Linked DNA regions of Homo sapiens: all the other regions are linked to region 1. The links come from fine-mapping of genetic effects on gene expression. A gene starts in region 1. Each other region holds a variant in brackets. All regions are shown on one strand. Distances are between the middles of the regions.

The links. PIP is the estimated chance that this variant, and not a neighbour inherited with it, causes the effect.
Region 2: its variant is the best candidate, but not a certain one, in a credible set for the expression of ALCAM in atrial appendage (GTEx, PIP 0.56).
Region 3: its variant is the best candidate, but not a certain one, in a credible set for the expression of ALCAM in blood mononuclear cells (TOPMed, PIP 0.67).
Region 4: its variant is the best candidate, but not a certain one, in a credible set for the expression of ALCAM in whole blood (INTERVAL, PIP 0.72).
Region 5: its variant is the best candidate, but not a certain one, in a credible set for the expression of ALCAM in tibial nerve (GTEx, PIP 0.62).
Region 6: its variant is the best candidate, but not a certain one, in a credible set for the expression of ALCAM in whole blood (INTERVAL, PIP 0.71).
Region 7: its variant is the best candidate, but not a certain one, in a credible set for the expression of ALCAM in whole blood (INTERVAL, PIP 0.88).

What each region holds. Positions count from the first base shown.
Region 1 is chr3:105,364,896-105,368,965 of GRCh38, forward strand. ALCAM (activated leukocyte cell adhesion molecule) reads left to right here and starts at 2,014. Exons shown (of 16, transcript NM_001627.4): 1 at 2,014-2,586. The coding sequence starts at 2,514. RefSeq lists silencers at 1,959-2,058, 2,389-2,508 and enhancers at 3,539-3,698, 4,035-4,070.
Region 2 is chr3:105,611,615-105,615,684 of GRCh38, forward strand. No RefSeq gene overlaps it. Among named protein-coding and RNA genes, the nearest start is that of ALCAM, 250 kb to the left of the region's middle. The variant G/T (reference allele first, on the strand shown) is at 1,891.
Region 3 is chr3:105,503,083-105,507,152 of GRCh38, forward strand. All of the region lies in intron 1 of ALCAM (activated leukocyte cell adhesion molecule), which reads left to right. Among named protein-coding and RNA genes, the nearest start is that of ALCAM, 140 kb to the left of the region's middle. RefSeq lists enhancers at 1,048-1,578, 1,579-2,109. The variant G/A (reference allele first, on the strand shown) is at 2,221.
Region 4 is chr3:105,395,890-105,399,959 of GRCh38, forward strand. All of the region lies in intron 1 of ALCAM (activated leukocyte cell adhesion molecule), which reads left to right. Among named protein-coding and RNA genes, the nearest start is that of ALCAM, 31 kb to the left of the region's middle. The variant A/G (reference allele first, on the strand shown) is at 1,631.
Region 5 is chr3:104,372,218-104,376,287 of GRCh38, forward strand. The region is part of intron 1 of LOC105374020 (a long non-coding RNA gene); the gene reads right to left. Among named protein-coding and RNA genes, the nearest start is that of MIR548AB, 850 kb to the left of the region's middle. The variant A/T (reference allele first, on the strand shown) is at 2,013.
Region 6 is chr3:105,138,382-105,142,451 of GRCh38, forward strand. No RefSeq gene overlaps it. Among named protein-coding and RNA genes, the nearest start is that of ALCAM, 230 kb to the right of the region's middle. The variant G/A (reference allele first, on the strand shown) is at 2,070.
Region 7 is chr3:105,497,899-105,501,968 of GRCh38, forward strand. The region is part of intron 1 of ALCAM (activated leukocyte cell adhesion molecule); the gene reads left to right. Among named protein-coding and RNA genes, the nearest start is that of ALCAM, 130 kb to the left of the region's middle. The variant C/CCA (reference allele first, on the strand shown) is at 2,262.

The sequences.
Region 1 (4,070 bases):
CAATCCCATGAGGCTAGCACTATTATCACTTTTTACAAGAAAGGAGACTGAAGCTTAAAGAGGTTAAGTGAGTTGACCAAGATCATACAGTTAGTGTCAGAGCCCAAATCAGTCTTCCTTTTGCAAATCTACCTTTAAGCAATTATGCTGTATTAACTCCCATCGTAAAATAGAGGAGATCAGATAGAGCGTTCGCGGACCTAGGTTAAATATATTGTCAGGTCGATTTATTCTAATACACCCCACTTACAACCACAGTGAAAAAGAAAACAATTCCCTAAAGCAATTCTACAGGAGTCCATGGAAATGCTAGCATTTCAGCCAAGCTTAGCTCAAGGAATATAGAGTTAAAAGGCATTTGCCTCCTAGCGATAGCCTTCCTGTTGATTCATAAGATGCAAATGAAATGTTAATGTTTAAACCAAGTGGGAGAAACTACTTATTTTGAGAGGAAAAAAATATGGTATAAAAGCTCTACTCTAGAATATTGTTAATGTAAGGAGAACTGGAAGAACAGGACAAGCAGGCTTTTGAGAAAAATCACAGCTGAAGATAGGGCTTAATAGTTTAGAGCACTAAAAGATAAACAATTTTAAAAATCAGTGTGTGAGTGTGTGTGTGTGTGTGTGTGTCTGTGTGTTGCGAGTCTCCAATCTCGCTGGTAACTCGCAGTTTTCTGATGAAAGTGCAGTATGTAACGATTACTAGTTGGCATCCTCTGCTGGAGACCAGTCTCACAAAAGGGTGACCCTGTGATGCACGAAAGGCTATTTAATGCCCCAGCGAAGTGCTTCAGGGACCAAGATTTTATTATTCTTTGGTGATGAGAGTTGTGATCCTGCATCCCTGATTTAGAGCCACTTAGGGCTCCGACAGCTCCACCCCGGTGTTCTAGAGGAAAATCTTCCTTCATGCTCTCTGCCTGATTTGAAAGCAACACAGCTTCCCGATGTTCCTCCTGGGAGGTGGTTCAATCTTTAGAAATTGCCTAAGAAGCCTGTCCATCTGCTGGAGTGCCTGGCTTTCGGGAACGGACCAAGACGGACTTGGCTTTTAATCTGAAATAATTTGAGGATTTTCTGTCTATAACTTAAAATCACCGCTTAACTCAAAGTAAAAAAGTGACACGCTCTCTAGAGGGCTTTTGTAGACATTGGGAAAATCCGTATGACGAAGTACGGTTTAGAAATTCCGGATTTAATTTCCCCCGGGAAAAGCAAATATCTTCTGTTGGTACCGGGCAGTCGACTCACGTAGTCTTCCTTTAAAACCAAGTCTATGCCAGCCGGGTGTGAGGGGAGTGGTGGGGGTGAGCAGGGGGAGGAGAGAGATTCGAAAAGTACAGGAGGAATCAGTCCAGTACAGGGGTTGCCCCTGCCAACAAGTAGCTATTCCTGTTAACTCCCAAGAAGCAAGTTTCCACCTTTGCCACTTCCTCCTGCCCTTTCCTTTCCTTTTCCCTTCACTCCCGCTCTTGGACCCAAGGTTCGCTCCCCACCGCCACCGCCCTGCCCCACTATTCTCTTTACAGGACAGAAGGCTGCAGCAGCACGGCGGAGAAAAATCTCTGAGGAATGAGTCAGTGGGATGGGCGTATGGGTGGAGGGAGAGGGCAGTCGATTTTTAAACCTCAGCGAGGGTGGGTGGGCAGTTGGAAGCCAGAGGCCTTATCACTGGGGCGCTGCAACATCACAGAAAGTGTTAGTCCCAGGGCTCTCCCTGGCGCGCGCGGCTCCTGTGCTTGCTTCTTATTGGCGGACCTGGCCCTGGGGGCGGAGCCGCGGTGAAGCACCGCTCATCCGGGCTCCAGGACCGGGGCACGCGGTTCTCCCTGATCCCGGAGCTGGGCTCAGGGCTCGGACTCAGTCCTGCAGCGCCTCTAGGCTGCGGATCCGCGCTTCAACCACCTGCTTTGCGCTGCGTCCGGGGAAGTGGGGAGGAGACGGGAGGGAGGGAGGAGGCGGGGAGAGGAGGAAAGAGGCAGCTTACACACGCCTTCCAGTCCCTCTACTCAGAGCAGCCCGGAGACCGCTGCCGCCGCTGCCGCTGCTACCACCGCTGCCACCTGAGGAGACCCGCCGCCCCCCCGTCGCCGCCTCCTGCGAGTCCTTCTTAGCACCTGGCGTTTCATGCACATTGCCACTGCCATTATTATTATCATTCCAATACAAGGAAAATAAAAGAAGATACCAGCGAAAAGAACCGCTTACACCTTTCCGAATTACTCAAGTGTCTCCTGGAAACAGAGGGTCGTTGTCCCCGGAGGAGCAGCCGAAGGGCCCGTGGGCTGGTGTTGACCGGGAGGGAGGAGGAGTTGGGGGCATTGCGTGGTGGAAAGTTGCGTGCGGCAGAGAACCGAAGGTGCAGCGCCACAGCCCAGGGGACGGTGTGTCTGGGAGAAGACGCTGCCCCTGCGTCGGGACCCGCCAGCGCGCGGGCACCGCGGGGCCCGGGACGACGCCCCCTCCTGCGGCGTGGACTCCGTCAGTGGCCCACCAAGAAGGAGGAGGAATATGGAATCCAAGGGGGCCAGTTCCTGCCGTCTGCTCTTCTGCCTCTTGATCTCCGCCACCGTCTTCAGGCCAGGTGAGCAAGGGCCTGGGAGCAGCCCCAGACAGACGTGGGCCTGGAGCAGTTTCCTAGGTCCCCGTCCCAGCCTCGCACCCCCGAGGCAGTGCGCCCAGGCGCGTGGTGGAGGTAAGGGGACCGCTGTCCTGGCACAGAGCTGTCCCCGGGCTCGGTCACCTGTGCCGCACGTTTGGGCTTGGCTGGTTAGCTCAAGTTTGGGCATCAAGCTGGGGAAACTGGGTGAATCTCCAGGAACTTGGTGCTCCGGGGTGGGCAGGATTCGCCTGACGCTCTCCCCTTGTCCCTGCGGCTCCCAGCTAGGCGGCGGACTCTTGCCCTCTGACAGTTCCTCCTGTCTCTGGGTATCCAAGTCCACGTCACTGCGCCCCGAGCAGTTTTTCTTTCGCTTAGTTCTCGGATGAAATAACTGCCGGCACTTTTTCGTGATAAATCCCCTAGTAACTTCCCCTTGGTGAGCCGAGGAAGGGATGGGAGGGGTAGAGAAGGAGAGGACTTTAATCACCTCCCCCCGCCCCCCTTGCGAAACCTGCTAAAGCTTAAAATCGTGGTTTCAACGTTACCCCCTGCGGTCCCCGTCCATTGTCTGGGCGGGTGGTGAGTGAAAGGGTGACCGCAGGCAGATAACACAGCCAGAACAGGAATTAGTAGGTAGGCCTGGGAGACACCTCAGTGAGAGGTTTGTGAATTTCCAGGACCTGCTCATAGAGCCTCAGTTCTCAGTTCTGTACTGAGTCTTGGAAGAGAGAGAGAGAGAGAGAGAGAGAGAGAGAGAGAGAGAGAAAAGGCAAAATTCCCAACAACTAAAATATCTCTCGGGAAATCCCTTTCCACACCCTCGGGGACGTCCCCTGGCCCTGGTATCCTCAGGCCCGCCTGGCGGCTGACACAAGTTGTTCTAACAGGGTATTCCGTGCGCTCACAGTTGCCTGACAGAGCAGCAGGTTCCTTTGCTCCCCTAAACTGAAAATTTAGGGGATTTTTTTTTCTTTGAAGTTTTTTTTTTCTATCCCTGCGTAGACAGTTGCCAGTTAAACTCCTACTTCCTGGTATTTTGGCCTGTTTGTTCTTAGCTTTTTCTTTAGCTTTTATCAAAGAAAAATCTCACTTCCTTTTATCCGTGCACATCCCTTCAGCTGTCGGCAAGCTCAGGTCACAGAAGAGGTTTGAAAGCCTCTGAATCTCTCCCAGGAACTGGCGGGGAGAGGGGTTTGGGGGCCAGAGCCTGAGGAAGAGATTACAAGTGTTTGCGAGCTGCTGCTGCTGCTGCCGTTGCTGTGTGTGTGGGCGGGAGGAGTGCCCTCTCCAGATCTCTTTATTAAAGTTACATTTCTGGGTGAGGTAATGAGCTCACCTGATGTTTCTGAGGCTGAGGGAAAAAAAAGGCGTCTGCGTTCTCTGACAAATCTCGGGCTCTGGGGCGGGGACTGTGAAACCATAGTTCAACCGGATTTAAAGCAGGTGTCCTAGTGTAACAACGCTGG
Region 2 (4,070 bases), 250 kb after region 1:
CAGAGACTAGGGTTTTTAAGGATAATTCGGTGGGCAGAAGGCTAGGGAATAGGTGCTGTTAATTGGTTGGGGATGAAATTACAGGAATGTTCATATTATTTTGGCACGCTGACTCTATTTCTAGATAAGGGTTACAGGACTGGTTGAACCGGTTCCTTGGTATGACTTACTGGTCTGAGTAGAGTCAGTCGGTTGCCAGAATGCAAAAGTCTGAAAAATATCTCAAAGACCAATCTTAGGTTGTGACAATAGTGATGTTATCTATCTGAACAATAGGGGAAGTTGCAAATCATATGACCTCTGATGTAGCAAACAATTATAGAAAGGCAAGCTAGGGAACAATGGCTGGTTATCATTGAACTATGCATACATCTTAGCAGAATTCAGGCCCCTCCCATAACCCTAACCTCATGGCCTTTTATAAGTCTTACAAAGTTGGTTTTGGTCCCCAAGCAAGGAGGGGGTTAGTTTTGGGAAGGGACTGTTATCCTCTTTGTTTTAAAGTTAACAAATGCAGTTAGCTTGTCAGGTTAGAAGCAAGAATCTAAATCAGTTTGGATTTGCCTCACTGTTATAATTTTGCAAAGACAGTTTCAACTAAAGTTGCTTCTAAGCATTACTGAATATGTTGATTGTCTTTAATTACTATTTTAAGTTACAACTTTGAAATTTGCTTTTGAAAGAATAAATATAATTCAACTGTAAAAGAAAATATTCGGTACTGGCAAATAAAAATGTAATAATAGAAACATATATAAAATATAATTTTAAAAGAAGTTTCAGCTTGCTTATTTGCATATCATCTCACTCCAATTTTTAAATAAATATGCTGTGATTAATAGCAATAACCTTCTAAAGTACTCTGAAATCAGAAAATCCTTAGGAGAAAAGAGCCATAGTAATAAAAGTGTCATTATAAATAATTAGATATGCTTGTCACACATCCACCTTCAAAGGTTTCTACAAAGTGATTGACATGTAAGCCACCTGGATTAATCTTCCAGCTTCAATTTAGTTTCTACAAGAATCTAGTTATCCTTTGGAGAGTGAAACTCTCAGAAGAAAACCAGGAGAACAAAGCCCGTGACTGTTTGGGAGGGCTCAGGTTTTCCTAAACACAAGCACATGAATTGGTCTTTGCAAGTTTGCATTTCAGAAATAATTGAGACAGCAGGGGAAATCATGCTCCACATTATCTCCAAGTGGAACAGCCTGCTATTCAGAGTTCTTCTCTGGCCAGGCAGAGGAATAATTCTACAACAGAGGTACCCAAGAACATGCTCAGCCTCCACAGGCTACATGCTTCCCCTATCTATTCCCAGCCCCATCTCTGGAGAAACAGATCTTCCTTTTGATCAGGCAATATTCACAAATGACAGTGACAAATCAGGAAATTTTAAAGGAAGGGCTGAGTAAATAAAGACAACAGGAGAACTTTAGCTGTGGCTTTATAGTAACCGCTGTCCTAGATTTTGTCCTCTCTGTGGACTGATTGCACAGCATCTACCTTCACTTGGCTTACAAAAGGCTTCTGTGCTCCTTAGTGGCTGGAATACATGCTCTCGCTGTTCTCAATGGAGCTTCCAGGTTACTCAGCAGCTCTGTGATTTACAAGGCCCCCTGGGTGCCCTGGATCTGGTTAACTCCCAATTCCTTTACTCCAGGAATGAATATTTTCTGTGCTAACAGATAGAACAACTTGCCAGCTTAAAATTAGCTCCTCTTGAGTATAATGCATTGTGGTGTGACAACACCCAGCCAGCCCTGACTCCCCTGCTTCTCTCAGGCTTCTAAGCAGCTGGTTGGCTGAGCAGCCAGGCAGAAGGCCCATCTTCTCATCCCATTGTAATCTCTCACCAGGCCTAATCAGGTGCTTTGAGCCCAGTGGGT[G/T]CCAGGAAACGTTCTTGTTTGTCAAGCTGCCTACGTTCTTACACAAGGTGGGAACATAGTGTGGCCCCTTCCTCCCCAGGGAGGCTCCATTCTTCCCATGTCCCACTACCACACACAGAGACACAACTGGAGAAGTGTCCACTGTCGCTTGCTCACCATTTGCCTTTCTCTATGACAGAGCTAGTTGAGGACAGAATCTAGCAATTAAAAAAAAAGGTAGCAATTTAAAAAAATAGGAAAATGTGCAAAAAGTTCAGAGTAAGAGTTTTTAATAGAAGGTGTATCCAGAAGACAGATGAAGCAAGTCTGTATGTGTAAAAGTTTTCTGAGTATTGCAAAGTATTGAGCATCAAGCATGTGCTAGACATTTTCTATTACGCATTCAATTAAGCTTCAATAATTCTTTCTACCAGTGTGCTTTACTATCTCCATTTCACAGTTGAGACAACTGAGGCTAAACTGATGTAGGTCCCATGACAATAAGGGCCATAATGTACTGTAAAACCCATGCCCATACTCCCAAGGTTATTCTGCCTCTTTGAAGGACTAGTAAAGGACTCACATTAGTATTCACTTACAATCTCATGAAACACCTGGGTGGGAGATAGAATATGAAGGAATTGTGGGAAGAGATTAAAAGCCATGCAATAGCTTAAATCCAGAATGACTGGAAAACATCCTGGAAGAAATTCTGCAAAACAAATTTAAGAATATAATTGGCTTTAAAGATAAACATAAAAATTAGGACATTTTGGGTATGCAGTGATAATGACTCGACTTTGCAGGGCTGTGTAAGCATATAAAATTGCTGGAAATGGTGTAGTCAGGGAGTGATTACATTTGTATCCATCTAGGACCATATTCTGAATTGGCTGACAGCATTGGTTCACCCACTTTATTTGGGTTTCCTCATTCCTCCAGAGAAATGGTCAGCTGACTGTGGGCAATAAAGCATCACTATCTGCTAACAGCACATTCCAGGGAACACTTGTGTGGCAGTCAACAGCAACTGCTGCTTGGAAAGAGATAACATGTTTCCATCAATCACTCAGAGGAGGAAATGATGTCTGGGGCTACAGCCCACTTATTCAAGTGTGGCATCCTCTTGTCTAGAGTGAAGACTCTCATAGTGGAGGTTTAGAAGGAAATGGCAAAAGTATTGACATTTGTTAATCACCTATTACTTCCTAGACACATTGCATTAATTACTTACAGCAATCCTATGAGGTAAATATTACTGTCCCATTTTACAGATAAAGAAATGGACATTCAGGGAGGTTAGGTAAGTTAGCCAAACTCTTGTTGTGGTCAGTAAGTGGCTTTCAAACCCATGCTGGTCTAATTCCAAGATCAGCTCCTTTCAGTATACTATAGCTGACTCATTAGGCATAAATGTTAATATCTAATTATATAATACTTTGGAGCCAGACACAGTAGTATTAGTAGTAAAAAGAGAAGGACAAGAAGGATGAGGAGGATAATAAGGACTAGGATGAGGAGGAGCAGCAGCAGCAGGCATTTTTGTGAGATTTCCATGTGCTAGGCACTTTATAAAGATTGGCTCATTTAATAATCAATACAACAAAATGAGGTAAATATTTGTACTCTGATTCAAGATGTGAAAAACTTTGTCCTTCTTTTCCTTGGGACTAGAGAGAGAGAGAGAGAAAGAGAGAGAGAGTGTGTGTGTGTTTCAGGTAGGAGGAATACTGATGACTGCTTGGACAGTCGTCTGGTGTTGATAGTGATGAAATAAATCTTACGAGCTCTGGTCTCCATCTTTGAAACTAAACAACAGGAGGGCATATTTTTAACGAAAATTTGGGATGACAGTGAAGCCATGGATCTTTTTCAACTTGGCGTATCTTGCTTGAGCATTTTTCCACTCCATTGGGTAGAGCCATCATATGGGACATTGATAGCCAGTTGAGTCTACACGCATCATGGTCCTGATCATTTTCTCCTACATAGTGAGCTACATCCATTAATCTAAGAATATTATTTATTACTACAGACTATTTCTTATTTATTACTATAGATTATTATTTAGTTATATTAGTCTTATGTATATACTTTAAAGTGCATATATTCTTGAGGGCCATTTTGCAAATAAACAGTACTCATGCAGGATATCCCTATAAGTATTGGTATGGACAAGTATATATTACAAAACCCAGGGA
Region 3 (4,070 bases), 140 kb after region 1:
GTTTTTCTCTTTCTGTAGTTTATAGTGTGTGGCAAAAAGGGCTCGCGTGTGTTAAAGCCAAAATGCATTTTGCATTAACAATTTGCGTTTAGAAATCCAAGCACCTAACACCACCAGAGTTAATATTTGCTTTGGACTCTTCTACTTATTTAGTCTCAAGCTTTTCCAAAGAGCTAACACAAAAAGACAGCTTTCCTATTTGCCTAGTGAGTGTGTGATTTCACACATAGTGTATGATATGCTTCTACAGAGACTTGGTATTAGCTGTTTTTCATGTGAGCTGTGTACTTAGTTATGTTGGGAAATGTGAACTTTGTAGTTGAAAAATGCAGCAAACTGACTGAGGCTCATATCGATTCTACTTTAGAAATGTCTCCTGTCTCCTTTTCACTGTGCCTCTTTTTCATTCCCACTGCCCTATTTCACTATGAGTACATAACCTAAACACTTTAACACGATTACCTTCCCCGAGTCCCTTCTCCAGCTAGTTTGCCTTCATACTGCTGCCATAATTTTCAATAGCAAAAATCTGACCACTTCACTGCCATCCTTAAAATGAACCAAAAATCCTTTTGTTGACTCCACATTCTTTACAGAATAAAGTCCAAATTGTTTAAGCTATTATTTAAGGCTTTCAAAGTATCACCCCATTGCTTCTTTCCCAGGTGCCTTTCCTTCCATCACCTCCTACAGCCCCTAAACCTCAGCCACACTGGCTGAACATGATTATACCCTTGCTCCAGCCTTTCTCTTGCAAGGAGTTTCCTTCATCCTTCTTTCCACTTGAAGAAATTCTTATCTGTGATGATTCAGTATAAATGTCCATTCCAGGCAAAGCCTTCTCCAGCCTATTCATCAATCCCTCCTCTGCTCCTGCAACATTTGGCATATAATCTCCATTATTCCAATAAATAAAAGCCAAAGAGACATAATAACTTTCAGCACTCGTTGTATGAAAAGCACTTTTTTAAAGCAACTTATACTTATTAATTTAGTATATTCATGATAACACTATGAGCATGATACTATTAAAAGGGGGAAAGTTCCCTTGTCCCCCTCACAGGGCATGCGACAGGGGTAGTGGCTCGCTTCTTCAGTGCCCCACTGCTCAAACCTCTAGGGAGCACACAGACGGGCAGGTTATGGGGCAGGTTATGGAGCTCCGACCCTATCGCAGTGTCTTGTGCTCTTTTAGTTTCGCCGTCTATAGGCGGCTTGTGTTAACCAGCTTAATTAGACCTTCTACGTTGTCACAAGGACAGAGGGCTTTCTGTATCTCGGGTTCTTGCCTTGGTGTACCGGAAGAATCAGATCACGTATGGGCTTGGAGAATGAGTGCAAGCTTTTATTTAGTGGAGGTAGCTCTCAGCAGATGGGGGAAGCCAGAAGGAGGATGAAGTGGGAAGGTTTTCTCCTGGAGTCTGGCCACTCAGCGGCCTAGCCTCTCCTTCAGCTGCCCCCGCCAACTCCGCGTCTGTTTCTGCAAGCCCACGGCCTGCCGGCCTGCTGGTGCCTGTCAATACATACCTCTTGACGTCCAGCTGCTCGTTTGTTCCCCCCACCTTCCCCCCGCCGATGTGCTGCTCCTCCAGACGACCACCTGTGTGTCTCTGCCTGCTAGGGTCTCAGGGTTTTTGTAGGCCCAGGATGGGGGCATGGCAGGCCAGGGTGGTCTTGGGAAATGCAACATTTGGGCAGGAAAACAAAAATGCCTGTCTTCACCTAGGTGTGGGGACACAGGCCTGGGGGTGGAGCCCTAGCCAGGGACCACGTCCCCCTCTACCCAGCTCTTCCCTTCCCCCTTCTGTATCATTTAAAGGGACCACGCTCTTCCCTACCCAGCACTTCCCTTCCATATCACTATCATTGTCCTCAATTTTACAGCTGGGAAACATTAGTGCATATTGGCTAAGTAACTCACTAGAAGTCACCTAGCTTATTAGTAGCAGAGCTGGATTCATCCTTACCAGGTCTGAGGCCAGAAACAATGCCTTAATTGCTACACTCTGCTGCTAATTATGTTTCATTTCTGTCTTCTAGATTTTTATCTCCTTGGAAGAGGTAGCTTATTTATATGTATATGTTGTATTAGACCGTCCTCTCATTGCTATAAAGAACTACCCGAGACTGAGTAATTTATAAAGAAAAGAGGTTTAATTGACTCAGTTCCACCAGCTGTACAGGGAACACAGCTGAGGAGGCCTCAGGAAACTTGCAATC[G/A]TGGCGGAAGGTGAAGAGGAACCAGGGACATCTTACATGGCCAGAGAAGGAGGAAGAGAGTGATGAGGAAGCTGCCACAGGCTTTTAAACCACCAGCTCTTATGAGAAGGCACTATCTTGAGAACAACAAGGGGGAAATCCACGCCCATAATCCAGTCACCTCCTACCAGGCCCCTCTTCCAGCATTGGGGATTATAATTAGACATGAGATTTGTGCAGGAACACAAATCCAAATCATATCATATGCCCAGCAGGAGTATAGTATCTGGACATTTTAGCCAATCAATAGCTTTATGTCCAATTTATCTGAATTAATACGAATCAGAGCCTTTTAGATTAAGGAAATTTTATTTTTAAAAATAAAAATATTTTCACAGAAAAACATTCTTAGAAAAAATATTGAAGACTGTTTGGCACAGATCAGTAATAAATAACTTATTAAATTCTAATCAGATGTTTAGCATATATCTTTTACAGTCTTTGGATTATATCAACAATATTAGATAAAGATATAACCTACACTATTCTTCAGATATATTTAATTTTTTTCATTTTCAAAAGATTTTATTGGCTTTCCCACAGAAATCATTATAAATATTCTCATAGCTACAAAGGCTTTAGAACAAATAGAAAATTTCCATAACTTTATCTTTCTGAAGTATAATTGTGTTGAAGTATGATCAGCGATTTTTATTGATCTTATGTGTTTACCTTGGTGACTGTTAAATAAGATTTTGTATTGGAAATTTTCTTTGTTGAACAGCTCCCTGTTTTTAAAATTAGAAACACAAATTTATGGATTTCTACATAACAAACTCTCTAAAATGATACTCTTTACCTAAGAAGTATGTAATATATGCCTGTTAATTAAACATGTACTAATAGTTATATTTGCATGTTGAGGCTTCCTGCAATTCACAAAACATAAAGAAAATGTTTTAAATTGATTCTAGGGGTGGTGTTCTTATTAGCTGTTGTAAATACACAGAGAGGTAGAATTGTAGCTGAAGAACACACACTTATAGCATATTTTTGTAGGACTCAGGTGGGAATGAACTTGAAAATTACCATTGGATTTTCAGACAGTAATACAAAGTATTTCAGTCTTTTCCATGTGGTTTGTTTGTTTGGTTTCCAATTAATTACTTCCTGGGGGAAGCATTGGGAGTTGTTTCAGTTATAGATTCATAACAAAATGAGATTCATAAACTAAATACATGATATAATCTGAAGCCCTGCTAGGACTCTTACAGCTCGTCTTTATAACCTAGTATTCCTTTAATGAGTAGGAACAGTGAACTTTTTTTTAAACCCAAATGACACTATTGTCTTTAAAAGCTGTTAAAAATAGCAGAGCCAAAGACGTAATATTATAATATTCAGTTAGGGGAATTTTGAGTGTCATTATCTCCCTAAGCAGTAACCATGAACAAATTATCAAAGCCATTGTCTCTTTTAAAATGGAAAGATGAACCAAATGTATTAGCACCTCAGTGGGATTGGGAATATGTGAAAAACATAATCATAAAACAGCAATTGCTAAGCCTCTACTCAAGACACTCTTGTTCATCAGAGGTTTTGGTGCTGTTGGAAAGTCAGCACCTGCTGAAATCTGCCTGGGGATTCAGCTGCCTAGACTGGAATCACCTCTGCTAATGGATGCCAAAGCTTTGCCCTTGAAGATGTTTGTGTCCTTCCCTCTCCCTATACCAGTGGAATTTAGATGAGACTGTCTAAATGTAGAATATATTGCATAGGCTGAAGAAATTGTGTGTATCACTTGTTTTTAATTAATAGACTATTTTTATCTGTTCTTAGTTTATGGAAAAATTTGAGTGGAAAGTAAAGAG
Region 4 (4,070 bases), 31 kb after region 1:
CTCCTGGATTGAGTTCTCCTCCATTTAATAAACATAGTTTGCCTAGTTCTGAATTCACAGGGCAAGGTTTCTGATTGGCTTAGCTTGGGTCAGGTGTCCATTTAGGACCAGTCAACTAACATTGGAGGAGGGGAATTTGATAGGTTTCTGTGCAATTTCAAGAAGCCTTGGGATGTGCTAATAAAGTAGACTGGGCAAGCACAATAATAACTGCCTACTATAGCATTTTTTGCTTAATTAAATTAATATTTATTAGACACTCATCATAAGCAAGTTATAACCGTGGTGCTGAATAAATGAGTAAAATACTGTATCTATATTCAACAATTCAAGGATGTGGCTGCTGTGCAAATCATTGGAGTACAGTGAAGACAGAGAATGGAGCTTAGTGATGATCATAAGGAGAGAAATAGGAGGTTTAGGAGCTAGGAGGTATGATCTTCCTGAGAATCTTTGAAATAGAAGAGACCTGAATATCTGTGGGAGCCAAAAGGAAAGAAGGATCAGACTCAAAGGGCAAAACTGAACTTGGAAAAGCACAGGGATTGATTGGGCAATGTCTCAAATCTGGAGAAAGAGACAAAACTGAGAAACGGGACAAGATTACTAGAAACTTACTGGACTTCTTCCTAAAAGGTAGAAACAAAGGATGAACAAAAGCATTAGTACAAATTGAGTTTTTAAGTAGAATTAATTTCTAGTAGATTTAATGAAGTTTTGGACATTCTTCAGCAATATCTACTATCTAACAGTAAAAATATTGTGGAACCATAGCTTCCCTACTGCCCAGTCCTCTGTCTGTCCTTGATGTTCATGGTGTCAGCGATTATTGGGATGGTTAACTCTGCAAGTAGTATTTAGGAAAAAGTGATTGCCCTCTTAAAGGTTACCATACCTTTCCAAAGACCATAGCCTCTGGATTCATTTCTTAGCAGTTTTATAGTTCCTTTGTTAAATGTTAGCATGTGAGATAGTAATTTTTCATAAAAAGCATATGTATACTTTTAGGTGGCATGAAAGTGTTAACTATCTGTGGACTTTTATCCAATTTCAGCTTATGGTGACAGGTTTCCTATTGTAGATGAATTGAATTAATTTTTCAAAATAACCTTTTTTTGCGAGGCTATATCAATTGGTGTGCTACAGTTAAAATGTATTACTTTGCCTATTTCCCATTTTCTACTAAAGTTTATAATTCACACAAAGAAATACAATAAAGTGTGTCTCCTGAAATTGTGCTTTGTGAAATGATGAGGCCATTACTCTGCCTTTTGAGATTAATAAATTTTTCTCTTGGCATTTGTTCCCTTATCTAACTGGCAATGTGAGTTTAAGCTTTACAGATAAATATTATACTATTGTTTTAAGTTTTGATTTTTGTTTATTCCTTATAAACATTACTTTTGAAAAATAAAGTGTATCTTCTGCAAGTTGTACACATGTATATATGAAGTAAACTTAGTCAAAGTGCTTGAGTTGCTTTGTAATTCAAAATTATGTAAGTACATTATGTTATGTTGAATAACAAAAAGTGATAACTCTAAGTTTAAATGGGTGACTAAATTTAAAAAATAATTTATACCAAGTATAGAGATAATAGATTTAAACATATCAATTTAAACTTATAGCT[A/G]TCACTTCTTGTTATTTAACATAACATAATATATTCATGAATAGGTAGTAGATTCCATTTTTCATGATCAAGCTTTCCTCAAATAACCCTCCCTCCAATTTTCAATAACAACGAAACACAACAAATTAACCACTCATCCAGAAATTCTAAACTATTTACGTATAATGATTGTCACATACCTTTTTAAAGAACACTTTGTTTTCCAAATATAATTTGACTAAATGCAAATAAGAACTGAACCAATAAAATGAAGCTTTTAAAAAAATTGAACTTCTGTTTGATAAATGGAATTATTTATTTGACAACACTAAAAATATGTAAAATAATGCTTTAGAATATCATTTTAAATCCACTTTTTAATAAAAGCTTTCTTAACTAATTAATTCAACAAATATTTGTTGAGTGACTACCATGGGTTAGCTACTGTGTTAAGTTGGATGCTAGGGATGCAGTGATAAAGAAAACATGGTCCTATGAAGCTTTTGTTTTGGTGGAATGGTGGTTCTTAAACTTGCACGTGCCTCTCAATCACCTGGAGAGTTTGTTAAAACATAGGTTGTTGGGCTTGACATCTACAGTTTCAGATTCAGTATTTCTGAAGTGGGGTTCCAAATTTGCATTTCTAACAAGGTCCCATATGTTGCTGATGTTGCCAGTCCTGGGACCACACTTTGAGAACAGCTGTCCTAGAGGAGGCAGTGCTGTCTATATACCAAAACTTCAATTAGCCTATGCTGTGCTGACCCATGCATGCCCACTGCAGCTCCCCCTCTTTCATTTTTTTTCAGAAGAAAAAATGCTTTCTGTAAATACAATCTGGTATGTGGATAGTGCACAAATTATATAGTTGCTTCTTAAATTACTGAGAAATTTACGAGGTCAAGTAAATATAATTTTCAGAGATAATGCTACCTTATTTAGCCTAGTGAAAATGTATCATCAGTATTATGGCCTGATTTTCAATTTAATCATCACTTTATTTTAACATAAAGCTTTTCTTTCTGATCTTTTGGTAGCCATCCAGTTTTCCATAGTCTTTTAAATGTGATGGCCAGTGGTTCATTTATTGCAATAATTAAGATGGATAGCAGCATGCCAGCTGGAATGACTACACTTGTGTTTATTGTATAAATTATTTCCTTAGTATAAAAGCCTCTTTTATGGCTTTTGCTTTGGTCATATCTTTTGTACCCTAAACCATTAACCATAGCATGTTTAGGAGAGCCATTTATAAAGAAGCTGGTAATATTTACCAATTTCTAATCACCATTAATTCATGTCTACATTTTTCTTAGCACTGGAGATTGCTTGTTGCTTTGTTCCTTCTGCCAAGAGCAAGAAAAAAAAAGTGTTCTAACCCTTCTAGGACTCATAAGCTTTTTTTTTTCCTTTTCTTCCTTTTCTTTGATTTTTTTTTACTACATTCACACTTCTTTTATTTTGTTCTACTCTCATCTCTTTTCCTTGTGAATCTTAAGTTACTTTGGTTAGTTTACTCAAAATACATAGAAATGCAGCCCCTAATGTGAATTTCTTATAAGGCATATTTGAAATTCCTTTAAAACACAGACTGCAACTGATTTTTGTCATTTTTTTAAAATGCTACTTGAGTTTGGTGGTCTTTTGCATTTCAAAAATAATTGCATTTCAGTTTTAACAGAAATTATTCAGATATAGTTCAGACACTGATCATTTCTGTATGCATCATCGTACCCAGCAAATTTCAGTAAATATTTGCTGACCTATTTTTTTTCTTTACACTTTAGTTTCAAGGAAATTGCATGCCTGTTACCTTTCTAAAAGCTAGTGCAGTGATTGTTGGTATATTTACAATACTCATCTTTCCTTTTAAACTTTGTAAGTTTGAAAGTATAAATCAAAATGTCATATTACATCAGAATATAAATTTTATTATTACCCATATATCAAATAACTAGTTAAAGCAATTCAGAGTAGTTAAGAGGGAATATTTAGTGGCAATAAATGTATATTGTTGCATATAAATACACATATTAGGCCTAGATTTATTGTCTACAATTCTTTTAATTTCTTATCAGATTTCAGTATGAAAAAAAGTGAATGAAATAAGCAAAAGACTATATCCAGTTACTGTAACTAATGCTAATTTCATAATCTCTTAATGGTTTAATGTTATATCCTGATGGTTTTATGTTTTTTGACCAATCTTTCAGGCTATCCTTTTCTGACCACTCAAACCATGAAAACCTGCCCTCCCTGGAAAATCCAAGAGCCAGTCAGTTCCCACAAAGACAACAAGAGCCACTCTGTTTGGAAAACTTTGGCTCTTTTTCAGCAGTCACCATTGGCCTTAGAATACAGAGCATTCTTACCCACTGGCTAAGATTAACTTGGTTAGCAGACAGCCTACATCCCTTCGTATAAAAACTGTTCTTAAAAAGTAGCAAACATTGTCCTAAAT
Region 5 (4,070 bases), 990 kb before region 1:
ATCTCTAGATTCCCTATTTCGATATATTCTCACAGGCCTCAGATATTCTAGTCTTTTATTATTACGTTTCCATCTGTACTTCAGTTTGTACAATTTGTATCATTCTTATTTCATTTAAATATTTATTTTGCTTTGTCCAGTCTATTTCCAACTAAGATTGTTTATAAAGATATTGTATTTGTTTCTTTAACGTTTCCATTAGAATCATTTATTTAGGGATATCTTTCCTTTTTTGAATGTCCCCATTTTTCACCCATTTTTTCCTGTTTTCCTATAAACTATTTTAAACTCTCCAATTGTTATATTAAAGTCCCTGTCAGTTAATATCAATATCTGTGCCATCTATAAGTCTACTCAGCTTAACTGCATTTATTTTACTTCTGATTGGAAGTCCTATTTGCCTCTTTTTATAATAAGTAGCTAATTTATTGCATATAGATGTTACAAATGATATGTTATAAAAACTGGATTGCATTATCTTCTCTTATAGATTATTGAGTTGTTCTGGGGGGAATTTCTATTACTGTTAGATTACTTTGATCCTGTCTTAACTTAGTTTTAGGTTGGGGAGGTGGTTCTGTTTCAGTTGTGTTTTCAGAATTTATGTGCAAAACTTTTTTATAGAATATGATTTTTATTTTTACATTTTTTTCTGGTTGATGAAAGCTCGAAATTCAAATATCTTCTCAGTCATTTACCTCAAAAATATGCTTAATTCTCAGATGTTACCTGCTAATGATTACATAATCCTGTTCTTTAAATGTGTAGTTTAGGATTCAGTCAAAGACCAAAGAGCTCCACTACACAGATTTCTTAATCTTCTCCACTGCAAGCCCTTCCCATTGGGTGCTGTTCCCCACAAAAAAAGCTACCACTTTGTCACCTTTTTGATCTGTTTGTTTTGCCCAACAAGATTGCTGCTGCCTGTTAAAGCTATACTTTTAAGGGTTAGAAATGACGCCAACCAGAAGCCAGTTGATGATATGTGCAGAGCTCACCTTTGAGCCATCCCTTCTTCAAGTTTCAGAGCCCTTTGCTGTCTGTTTTCTAATAAACGAAAAGAGTTCCTCAAAAGGTTTGTTGAGTTTTAGAATTGTCCAGAGTAGTAAGGTAAGTCCAATACCAGCTCTGTGGTTCACAGACAAACCCAGAAGTTAACATGAATTTATTTTTAAAATACCATTTTATGTAGATTGTAGTGATTCTCCTATCAGCTGCAGAAAGTTTACTGTGGTTGTTTTTTATTGTTTCTAGTGAACTTTATTGTCATTTTTTATCATGACTAATATGTTTTCATTACTTTAAAAAATACTGGACTTTGTAATTTTAAAAGTCCATTGATTTTTTTTCGTGAAAAATAGCAATTTTTGTTTTCTCTTTTTCTGGGTATCATTTTTGTTGTTGCTGTTACTTTATCCTCAGGAGTTAAGTTCAATTAAAAATATTGCCCAAAGGCCAAAATTAACAAATGAGATCTAAATAAACTAAAGAGCTTCTGCGTAGCAAAAGAGACTATCATCAGAGTGAACAGGCAACCTAGAGAATGGGAGAAAATTTTTGCAATCTATCCATCTGACAAAGGGCTAATATCCAGAATCTACAAGAAATTTAAACAAATTTACAAGAAAAAAACAAATAACCCCATCGAAAAGTGAGCAAAGGATATGAACAGACACTTCTCAAAAGAAGACATTTATGTGGCCAACAAACATGAAAAAAAGCTCATCATCACTGGTCATCAGAGAAATGCAAATCAAAACCACAATGAGATACCATCTCACACCAGTTAGAATGGTGATCATTAAAAAGTCAGGAAACAACAGATGCTGGAGAGGATGTGGAGAAATAGGAATGCTTTTACACTGTTGGTGGGAGTGTAAATTAGTTCAATCTTTGTGGAAGACAGTGTGGAAATTCCTCAAGGATCTAGAACCAAAAATACCCTTTGACCCAGCAATCCCACTACTGGGTATATACCCAAAGGATTATAAATTATTCTACTATAAAGACGC[A/T]TGCACACTTATGTTTATTGCAGCACTGTTCACAATAGCAAAGACTTGGAACCAACCCAAATGCCCATCAATGATAGACTGAATAAAGAAAATGTGTCACATATACACCATGGAATACTATGCAGCCATAAAAAAGGATGAGTTCATGTCCTTTGCAAGGATATGGATGTATGAGGCTGGAAACCGCTATTCTCAGCAAACTAACACAGGGGCAGAAAACCAAATACAACATGTTCTCACTCATAAGTGGGAGTTGAACAATGAGAACACACGGACACGGGAAGGGGAACATCACACACCGAGGCCTGTCGGGGGTGAGGGGCTAGAAGAGCGATAGCATTAAAAGAAATACCTACTGTAGATGATGGGTTGATGGGTGCAATAAACCACCATGGCACGTGTATACCTATGTAACAAACCCACACGTTCTTCACATGTATTCCAGAACTTAAAGTATAATATTTTTTTAAAGTTGCCATATTATATTTTAATATTAAATAATTAAACTACATTTATTTTCTTGCCTTGAGCATTATGTAAAATTAGAAGATACTGTGTTCATCTCAATCTCCCATGTCATCAATTTACTCTTAAACTGTATTACTTCTAATTCAAGCATATTTATATAATTCCTTCGAGTTTAATATTCATATTAATATAAACTTTTTAGACTTCTTTGCAAATTTTTGTTGGTTTCAGTATCTATGGCTTTTTCCTTGAAATAATATTTTGATTCCTGAATTCTCTTTTTGTTCATTTATAATTCTACTGTAATATTTTTTCAATTACTGCTTTTCAGAAAGGTCAAATAGATGAACAGTTTATGTCTCAGTGGACTACAAAATATAGTTTTTACCTCACTTATGCAAACTAATTTTACTGCCTAAGAAATGCTTGAGTCACATTGTTTTTAAAAATTTACATTTATCCGTTATTTTATGACATTTATAGTTATGGAGAACAACACTGACTCCAGAGTTGTTCATCACGAACAAAGCGAATGCTAAAACCAGCCTGCTTTTGTTTTGTTTTAATGGGCTAGTTGTTTTCTTTCTATTTTATTTTATTAGATTTTATCTTTATCTTTGAAATTTATGAATGTTATAAAATATGTCATAGCATACATTCCTATAATACATAATACAGTTACTTGTGGATTCCATTTGTTTTGAAGCCTAAATCTTTTATTCTATTTATATATTTTTAATGAAACTGTTTATAAAGAGGTCATTGTAGAGTCCCCTATACTTACAAGAAATCATACAAAAAGATCTCATATATCGTTTATCTAATTTCCCCCAAAAGTAATATGCAAAGCTATAGTACAGTACCACAACCAGAATGTCAACACTGATGCAATCCTCTAATCTTACATAGATTTCCCAGTTTTGTTTGTACTCATTTGTGTGTGTGCACATGCATGAGTCTAGTTCTGTACAATTTTGTCACATGTGCACACTCATGTCTCCATCACCAGCCAAGAAACAAAACAGATCCATAACCAGAGAGAGCCCTGATATTGTCCTTTTAAAATCATATGCATCTAGCTCTCCAGCTCCATCAACATTCCGAACCCCTGATTATCACTATTCTCTAGTTTTAAAATTGTGTCTTTTAAAAAATTTAATATACATGGAACCATATAGTATATAATTTTTTGGAGTTGTCTTCTTTTTCACGCACCACAATTTTCTGGAAATTATATTTCACTGTGTTATTACTCCTATTCCAACTTTTCTGTTTCTCATTCCAATGTTTTCTTGTACCTGTGTGTGCTGTACTTTATGTCTCTTCTCTTTTCTTTTCTGGAACCAGAGTCATCAGATCTTTTTGAGTTTTGAGATTCTCGAATATAAATGCATATTAAATAATTTGGATTTTTGTCAAATATGTGCAATTGTTACTACTTCTAACACATCTTAAAATTCTATAAACAATGTTGTTCTCTCATAAAAAAGTTCTTCTGTTAAGAAATTTTTAGCTAGATCCTCCTTCATAGAAGCAATATTTTCTTGTGCATCAATAAAAATACCAGTTTAAGTGTATTTCAGAAATTCA
Region 6 (4,070 bases), 230 kb before region 1:
GGCTTTGCTTTCACAGCATGCCCAGGAAGAACATACAGGGATGCTTAAGGCCCCTTGTAGATTGCTTCTTTGAACAATGATCCTGAAGAGATAAGCAAATTGAGGACAGGAAAAATCTTGAATTTAGCAAAATGGAGATCATTGTTAACCTTATTAAGAGCTGTTTTGTCAGAGTGATGTAATGTAAAAACATACTACAGTGGGCTGAAAAGTGAATGTGAGGCCAGGCGCAGTGGCTCACGCCTATAATCCCAGCACTTTGGGAGGCTGAAGCAGGTGGATCACAAGGTCAGGAGTTCAAGACCATCCTGGCCAACATGGTGAAACCCTGTCTCTACTAAAAATACAAAATTAGTTGGGTGTGGTGGCGTGTGCCTGTAATCCCAGCTACTTAGGAGGCTGAGGCAGGAGAACGGTTTGAACCCGAGAGGTGGAGGTTGCAGTGAGCTGAGATTGTGCCACGTGCACTCCAGCCTGGGCAATAAGAGCAAAACTCCATCTCAAACAAACAAACAAAAAAAAGTTTTTGCCAAAAAAAAAAAAAAAGAAAAGAAAAGAAAAAAGAAAAGTGAATGTGGGATATGAGAGAGAATAGAGACCACAAACATAGAATAGTTGCTTTTTTTTTTTTTTTTTTTAAGAAGTGCAATTGTAAGGTGATAAAAATAGAAATATCTTTAGGTGGGATATTGAAATGAGAGAAGATATTTTTGTTAGTCATTGGGTTATGTTTAAAAACTAATGGAAATGATCAAATGAAATGGTCTACAAACATCAGAATATAAATGGCTATTATATGTTCATTAACCCTGGATATGACATTGTTATAGATTGAATTGTGTTCTCTCAAAAGACAAAAAAAAGGATGTTTAAGCCCTAATCCCCAAAGTGCTACAAATGTGACCTTATTTGGAAGTAGGATCTTTGAAGATGATCAAGTTATAATGAAGTCATTACAGTTGGCCCTTATCTAATGTGACTATATCCTTATGAAAGGGGAATTTTGGACACAAAGACAGACATACAGAGAGGATGCTGTGAAGACACTGGAAGCCAAGGAACCCCTGAGGCTACCAGAAGCTTGGAGAGAGTGATGAAACTCACAGCCCTCTGAAGGAACCAACGCGGTTGACATCTTGATTTCAGACTTCTAGCTTCCAGAACTGTGCAAGAATACATTTTTGTAGTTTAAGCCACCCTGTTTGTGACACTTCGTTACAGCAACCCTAAGAAGCTTATACTACAGACATTGTTCTCAGAAAGACCAAATACTGATAACAAGAAATAAAAAAGCAAGCCTTAAAATCTTTAGAGCAGCCTTTATTTCACTGCACTTCCGCAGGACATTGATCACAGCAAATTTTTTTTTTTTAACAGGGTCTGACTCTGTTGCCCGGGCTGGAGTGCAGTGGCATGATCTTGGCTCACTGCAACCTCTGCCTCCCAGGTTCAAGCGATTCTCCTGCCTCAGCCTCCCAAGTAGCTGAGATTACAGACGTGCACCATCATGCCCGGCTAATTTTTTGAATTTTTAGTATAGACGGGGTTTCACCATGTTGGCCGGGCTGGTTTTGAACTCCTGACCTCAAGTGATCTGTCCGCCTTGGCCTCATAAAGTGCTAGGATTACAGGCGTGAGCCACCACGCCCGGCTGCAAATGTCTTTTTTCAGGAGTGTATAATGTTGAGAGCACTACTTAAATGTTCATTCTTAGAAAAACCTCAAAAAGGGAAGTAAAAGAAGAGGGAATAAAAACTCTTTAAGAAAATATTCTCTTAGCAAAATGAGAATTCAATATGTTAGCCTAATTAATAGATATTCCATTATCAAACACTTTGCATTTGTTAATAAAATACTTCAAAAGAAAATGGGAAATACAATTTCTTTTAAGTATATAAGAAAATGATTAGAATGGTAGAGTGGCTTTGTGAAATGGTCTAAGCTGATTTGTAGAGCAGGAAGCTTAAGCAATGGTTCCTCCAGACTTTAAAAAAAATTACCTAACCACTATGGTTTTACATCTTCTCATCTGCACATAAAGAGTTCTATTAGATTACTTCCCCCAGAAT[G/A]ACTATGGGAATTATTTTAACAACATATGTTTCTAGTATAAGTGTCTGTTCTTGTGTAAATTGAATGTAACACCTAACTGAGGCATTCTTGATGTTGAAATTATTTCTGTTTACTTACCAGTAATGTTTGTTCTTATAGTTATATATAATTCGTATTCTTTTAACACAGATTCCAAGCTTTTTCATACTTTTTTAAATTCCAGTTTCCCTGAGAATGTATTTTGGGGTCTACCTTGGATGCCCTCTTTAATTCTTTCAGAGGTAATGTTCATGCATTCACATGGGTCCTGCTTATAGCTCATTAAAGGAAGCACACATCTGCACCTACTGCCTAACAAAGACTCTCCAGTGGGCCAACTAGAGTCAATCTTCCAGAAGTTTAATGTAGATCAGGTTCTACAATCTCTGGCTCCAAAACATTTTCTCTATTTTATAGTAATATTGATAACTATTATTGTTATTACTTTGAGGAAGTGAAAATATCTCATACTTCTGCTGGCTAAAGAGTCTTTGAAATATTTCCGCAATGCCTACAGGGTTAGATATTAATAAGCTTCTACTTGTAACAAAATTGAGACACAAGTTAAAGACTCTGACCACGTGATCAGAGAAATATTCCAGCAACATCAAAGGTAAACAGGACTCTCACAGATAAGCCAAAAGGACACATAATTATTTGAGCAAATGGAGAAGAACAATTTGTTCAAGTTGTTGAAGTCATTTCAGATTATTGCCAAGAATTCTCAGAATATCCTCTGAATGTATACTTCTGTGCTGAAAACAAAACCACATGCTCATAGGAAATGTCACAATTAAGAATCTTGTTTACCTAGCTGTTTAAAAAAACATGCCAGGGTAGGCAATGAAGGTTACATCCTCACTGTGCAGGTCAGTGCTTATCAAATCAAAATGGTTCAACCACCTAAAAAAAAAAATCTTCATACAAAGGACGAAATAGCAGGCATACCAGCCTAGCTTTGCACGCTGGCTATGTGCACACTGTACCTCCAAAAACAGCCTCTGGTCATAATAGTTCTGGAAATATGTTGTGGCTTTTTTCAAGATAAATAAAACATGAAAAGTGAATTTGTTTATAAAAATAAACCCATCTTAACTTTTCATTTATACTAGCATGCTTTTATATGATGGCTTGCCCTTCAAAAAATTGGAGCTTACCTTGAAGATCTCTGCAATATCAAGGTCTTAAGTTCCTAAGAGTAAGTTTTATCTTTGTTATTATTATCATTTAAAAGCTATTCAGTGTATTAGCAACTAGAGATGTAATTATCTTACATCTCTAGTTGCATACACAAACTTTCAGTATAAGTTTATAGTCTCTATTAAATTGTTTTAATTATATGCATTTGAGTATAAATAAAAACATAGAAACTTATCTAAATATTTTTCCCCCTGTATCAGCAGCTAGGCTTTGAGGTCAGGGAGAGAAAGGAGTGATATTCTATATGAAAAATAATCAAGATACTTTGAAAAAAAACTTTTCTCAGTTCAGTACCCTAGAGATTACATTTAATGTTCTTTCTTAAATTTAACTCTCTATGAAATTGAGAGATTAAAGTACTATGTCTAGTATCAGTTATTTTCTAATAGCCCAGCACATTCTCAAGAGAAAAACATACTATTAAAATTATAAAGGATATTTATAATGTTTATTTTAAAATGGTTAATGCTCCTTTTAAATGCATGATTTTTAATACTTAATTGTGTTTATTTTTACTATAAATATACTCTATTAGTTTGTTCTCACACTGCTAAAAAAGACATACCTGAGACAGAGTAATTTATATAGGAAAGAGGTTTAATTGACTGACAGTTCAGCATGGCTGAGGAGGCCTCAGTAAACTTACAATCATGGTGGAAAGGGAAGCAAACATATCCTTCTTCACATGGCAGCAGCAAGGAGAAGTGCCAAGCAAAAGAGGGGAAAGCTCATCAGATCTTATAAAACATCATATCTCACAAGAACTCACTATCATGAGAACA
Region 7 (4,070 bases), 130 kb after region 1:
CAGGCACCTGTAGTCCCAGCTACTCGGGAGGCTGAGGCAGGATAATGGTGTGAACCTGGGAGGCGGAGCTTGCAGTGAGCCAAGATCACACCACTGCACTCAAGCCTGGGCGACAGAGCGAGACTCTGCCTCAAAAAAAAAAAAAAAGGGGGGAAATTGGACTATCCTTTGTGAAGCACCCACCATGTTCCAGGTTACTGATATCGTACATTCATTATCGACTTAATGCTGAAAGATAAGTGTGATTGTCCCTGCTTTACAGTTTGTGAAGTAGGGAGGTGTAGTGGTTAAATATATTCAAAGTCATATGGCTAGGAAGTCTGGTGTCAGGGTTCAAAACCAGGACGTTTGAGTTTCAAATTGCTGGGTTTTTTCCTCCACTCTTTATAGTATTCTGCTTCTGTATTCTGTAGTTTCTGGTCACACAAAACACAATGTAAAATGTCAGCATAAGTGGGAAGTTTTCTAAAAAGTAAATGTGTGAATAATGTGCTAAGAAATTCAGGACCCAGGTCTCAACACTACATAGAGAAGAATAATGACATTTGTCTTGAGTTTGGTATCCTTGACACCACCATGTTTTGTCTGTTAGCCTGCCAAATGTGTGTGTGTGTGTGTGTGTTTTAATCATCTTTCTCTTTATTAGTATAATATAATTTTACCTGCCTTGATATCATGTAGGCATAAGGTATTAGTCTTGTTCCATTTGTAAAGATTCCAGGAGTGTTCTGCTTTTTATAACACTTCAAAGTTTTGTGCTTGGAGCTCCACTATCCAAGAGAGGCAAATGGCTGTTAAGGAATCTAGTAAAACATTCCAATATAAAAACCTTCAGGGGCACATGGTGATCCATTAATAAAACAGAAATTCAAATGAAAACTTTAGTTTAACAATTAAGATGATCCTGACTCCTTGCTAAATTCCCATTGTCTTATGGGATACAAGAATGCAATATGAGATATTGTACAATGCCTTTAGTATTTTTTCTAATAGATTTAGTTCCATCACGAACTGCTAAAACAGTGTGAGAAAATTCTTGAAGAAGTTATATAAATATTAATGTATTTCAGAGTTTTGCTTATTGTATTGATATATGTTCAAAATGATGTATTTTTTCAGCAATACAAAGGATATAACTTATCTCACCTTTCTTTAGGCAAATGAATGACAACAAATTACAATAGTACAATATCACTAGATATCTTCTAAGTTCAGTGATTAAAATGTACCTACTAAAGAGAAATAATACTTTAATCACTGTAAAAACCCAAGCAAAGTAGAATTTTTCAAAGCCCTGTGGAGTGGCAACCCTATATCTTTAATATCTAAGAACTAGAAAATAATTTTAAATATACATATGTTTTATATTCCTTAAGAGCAAGTGACTTTAGGTGAGAGGAGACCAAAACTTAAGTGAATTACCATTTAAAGCAAAAGATCAAACTAGAATGTTAAATTGTAGCAAAAAAGGAAGAAATTATGTGACTCTTTCATACTATAATATTACCAGTTTGGAAAATAGGCCTAGTAATAAAGTTTGTTTTACTAATTCTTTCTAAATTCCAGGCCAAAAATATCATGTAACTTTAACATGGCTTTCATTTCCAGTCATGTACAGAAGAGTCCTTTAATCTTATCTTGCTAAAGAAAAGAAATATTTTTTGCCTTAAAACTGTATTCTATAAATCAGTTCATGTCTGTCTTTCTACATACAAATTAATTTCTGTTTGTTGATTAAAATCTGCTGGGGCGGAGAGGTAGCTGTTTGATGTAATTGGTCTATCAAGTTTAAATGCAAATGATTAAGTAGGGTAAACATTAGCAGGGATGGCAAACAGAACCAAAAGCATTTTCTCATGGTACTCTGCTGGAAAGCTGATGTGATTTCTAGACAGAACAGACAGCTTACCCAAAACTATCTAAGTACAAATATGGCTACCTCTTTCTTCTACATTCTCTCTCACCTGTTCCAATTAGCTGTAGGAATCCTCAGGGAGAACTGCATTTCACAATTAGATTTTAGAATTGCCGTACCCTTAATAAATACGGGAGCCTTTAATGTAATATCTGCTATCTTTTCTTATTTCAATTTACCTCACCTAACAACCACTTTGTTTTCAGAGCCTCTTTGTAGAAGGTCAGTGTGCAGTAGATTGGCTTTGTTCACAGACTACACAGGATCCTCACTGGAGGTTTTGTTTAGAGCTCATATCAGTTAATGTCTCCCAAATTATTTCTTAAGTGTTACACTTGATTTACCA[C/CCA]CAGTTTCCACATTATTTCACAATACAAAAACTCACAAAAAATTACCATACTTTCTTCATATTAATACGACAAAGAATGATGAACTTTTCCTGTAAGCCTGCCTGCCTTCTTCTTCCTTCCTCTTTTCTCATCTCCTTCCTAGCTTCTTTCACTCACCATCTCTTCTTTTTTCCCTTTTCTTTCTTTTTTTCTTAGGATTCTGTATTTTTACGATGCAAGCTCTGTTTGTGGTGGGTGTTTAGATGACATTAAAAGATCTCTCTTTTAAAATATTTCCTTTCCAACTTCAGCAACTATGGAGAAAATGCTGATACAATATTTAAAATTTAATATACGAAAGTTAATTTTCTATTACATACTCCATTGCATGTTATAGTAATGCACTTGAAATATATTATCTCCATTTCATATCACCATGCCAAACTTACAAAAATTCAGTATCTTTAAAATACCAAGACTATTTAGAACAAATACATGATGTGGTGTTCATAAAAACAATATTGGATTAAGAGTCACAAGAGTCATTTCCTTAACTTGGTTCTATCTTCAACACTTTAAATTCTCTGGTCCTTAGCTTCTTTAGTTACAGGATGAGTGACTGCAATAAATTATCTCTAAGGTCACTTATCATTTCAAATGTACATCTTGGAATCACTAAACATTTCCTTATAAAAGGGCAATAACAGAAATATTTCCTACAGCTGGAGTCTTCTTATCTGCCAACCTCAACCATTCAGAGCCCAGCTCTGCAGGAAACACCCAGGTTTTGAGCAGTCAAAATAAATGCTGATGTCCATGAACCAAACTTTATTCACAAGGAAACTCCTTGGGCCCCTCTCACAGAGACTGTTTACTCTTTACATTGAATCTCTTTTAAAGTTTGATTATGTTGTTTTCAAAGGCCTGGCATGTTAGTGGCAAACTGGAAAGGGACTATGAGACAATCACAGAAGGGAGCAATAAATGGGCGAGTGCTTCGAAGGCTCTGAGGTGCTGCACAAATGCGGGCTGTTATCATTAGCGAGAGTGACTGACAACTGACAGGAATAGTGAGAGAAAAGATAAATCATTGTAAACAAAGCACAGGAATTTCAAAATACTGTTTGGGGTGGGGCTGTTTAGTATATTGGCAAGTCGGTTGAAACAGTTCAGTAATTCCTGAAAGTCTCACTGAATTATAGCATAGTATGTGCTTATAGAAATAACAGTTATCAAGGAGATGTTTATTTACATTCTGAATAATATTTGGTTTAACAGATAGTGTAACTGGAAAGTGAAATCTTAAGCACTATATAATGGTATTTTGACATGTAATTTTATTTGACATCAGAAGAGTATGCAAGATGCTCCAGATGTTCCAAATATTCTCCATCTAAAATAATTTAAAAATAAAAATCTATAAGGTATAAGAATCTAGATTTCAAATACCTAGAAAATAATATCTGAGTGATCTTGAATACATAAAATATTACTTTAATTTTGAAATGTAGTTTATTTTTCTTATCCATAATGGTAGTAATTAAGATGAATAATATTAATTCATTTTGTTCCCTATTTAAATGAAACAGTACTATGCCTGAATCAGAATTTCCTGCATGCAGCATGGCTTCTAAGCTCACAAGCTTATTATGAGAGTAGTATTGGAAAGATATAAAGCATAGTGCCTGCCAATACTTAAAACATATTACATGCTGAGGCAATGCAATAAAAATGTTTAATAATTCTTAAGTGATAGTGGCAACCAATCTAAAGCAAACTCAAGTTACAGTTGAAAACACTTATCAATTGATATAGAGTTAGAAACCAAA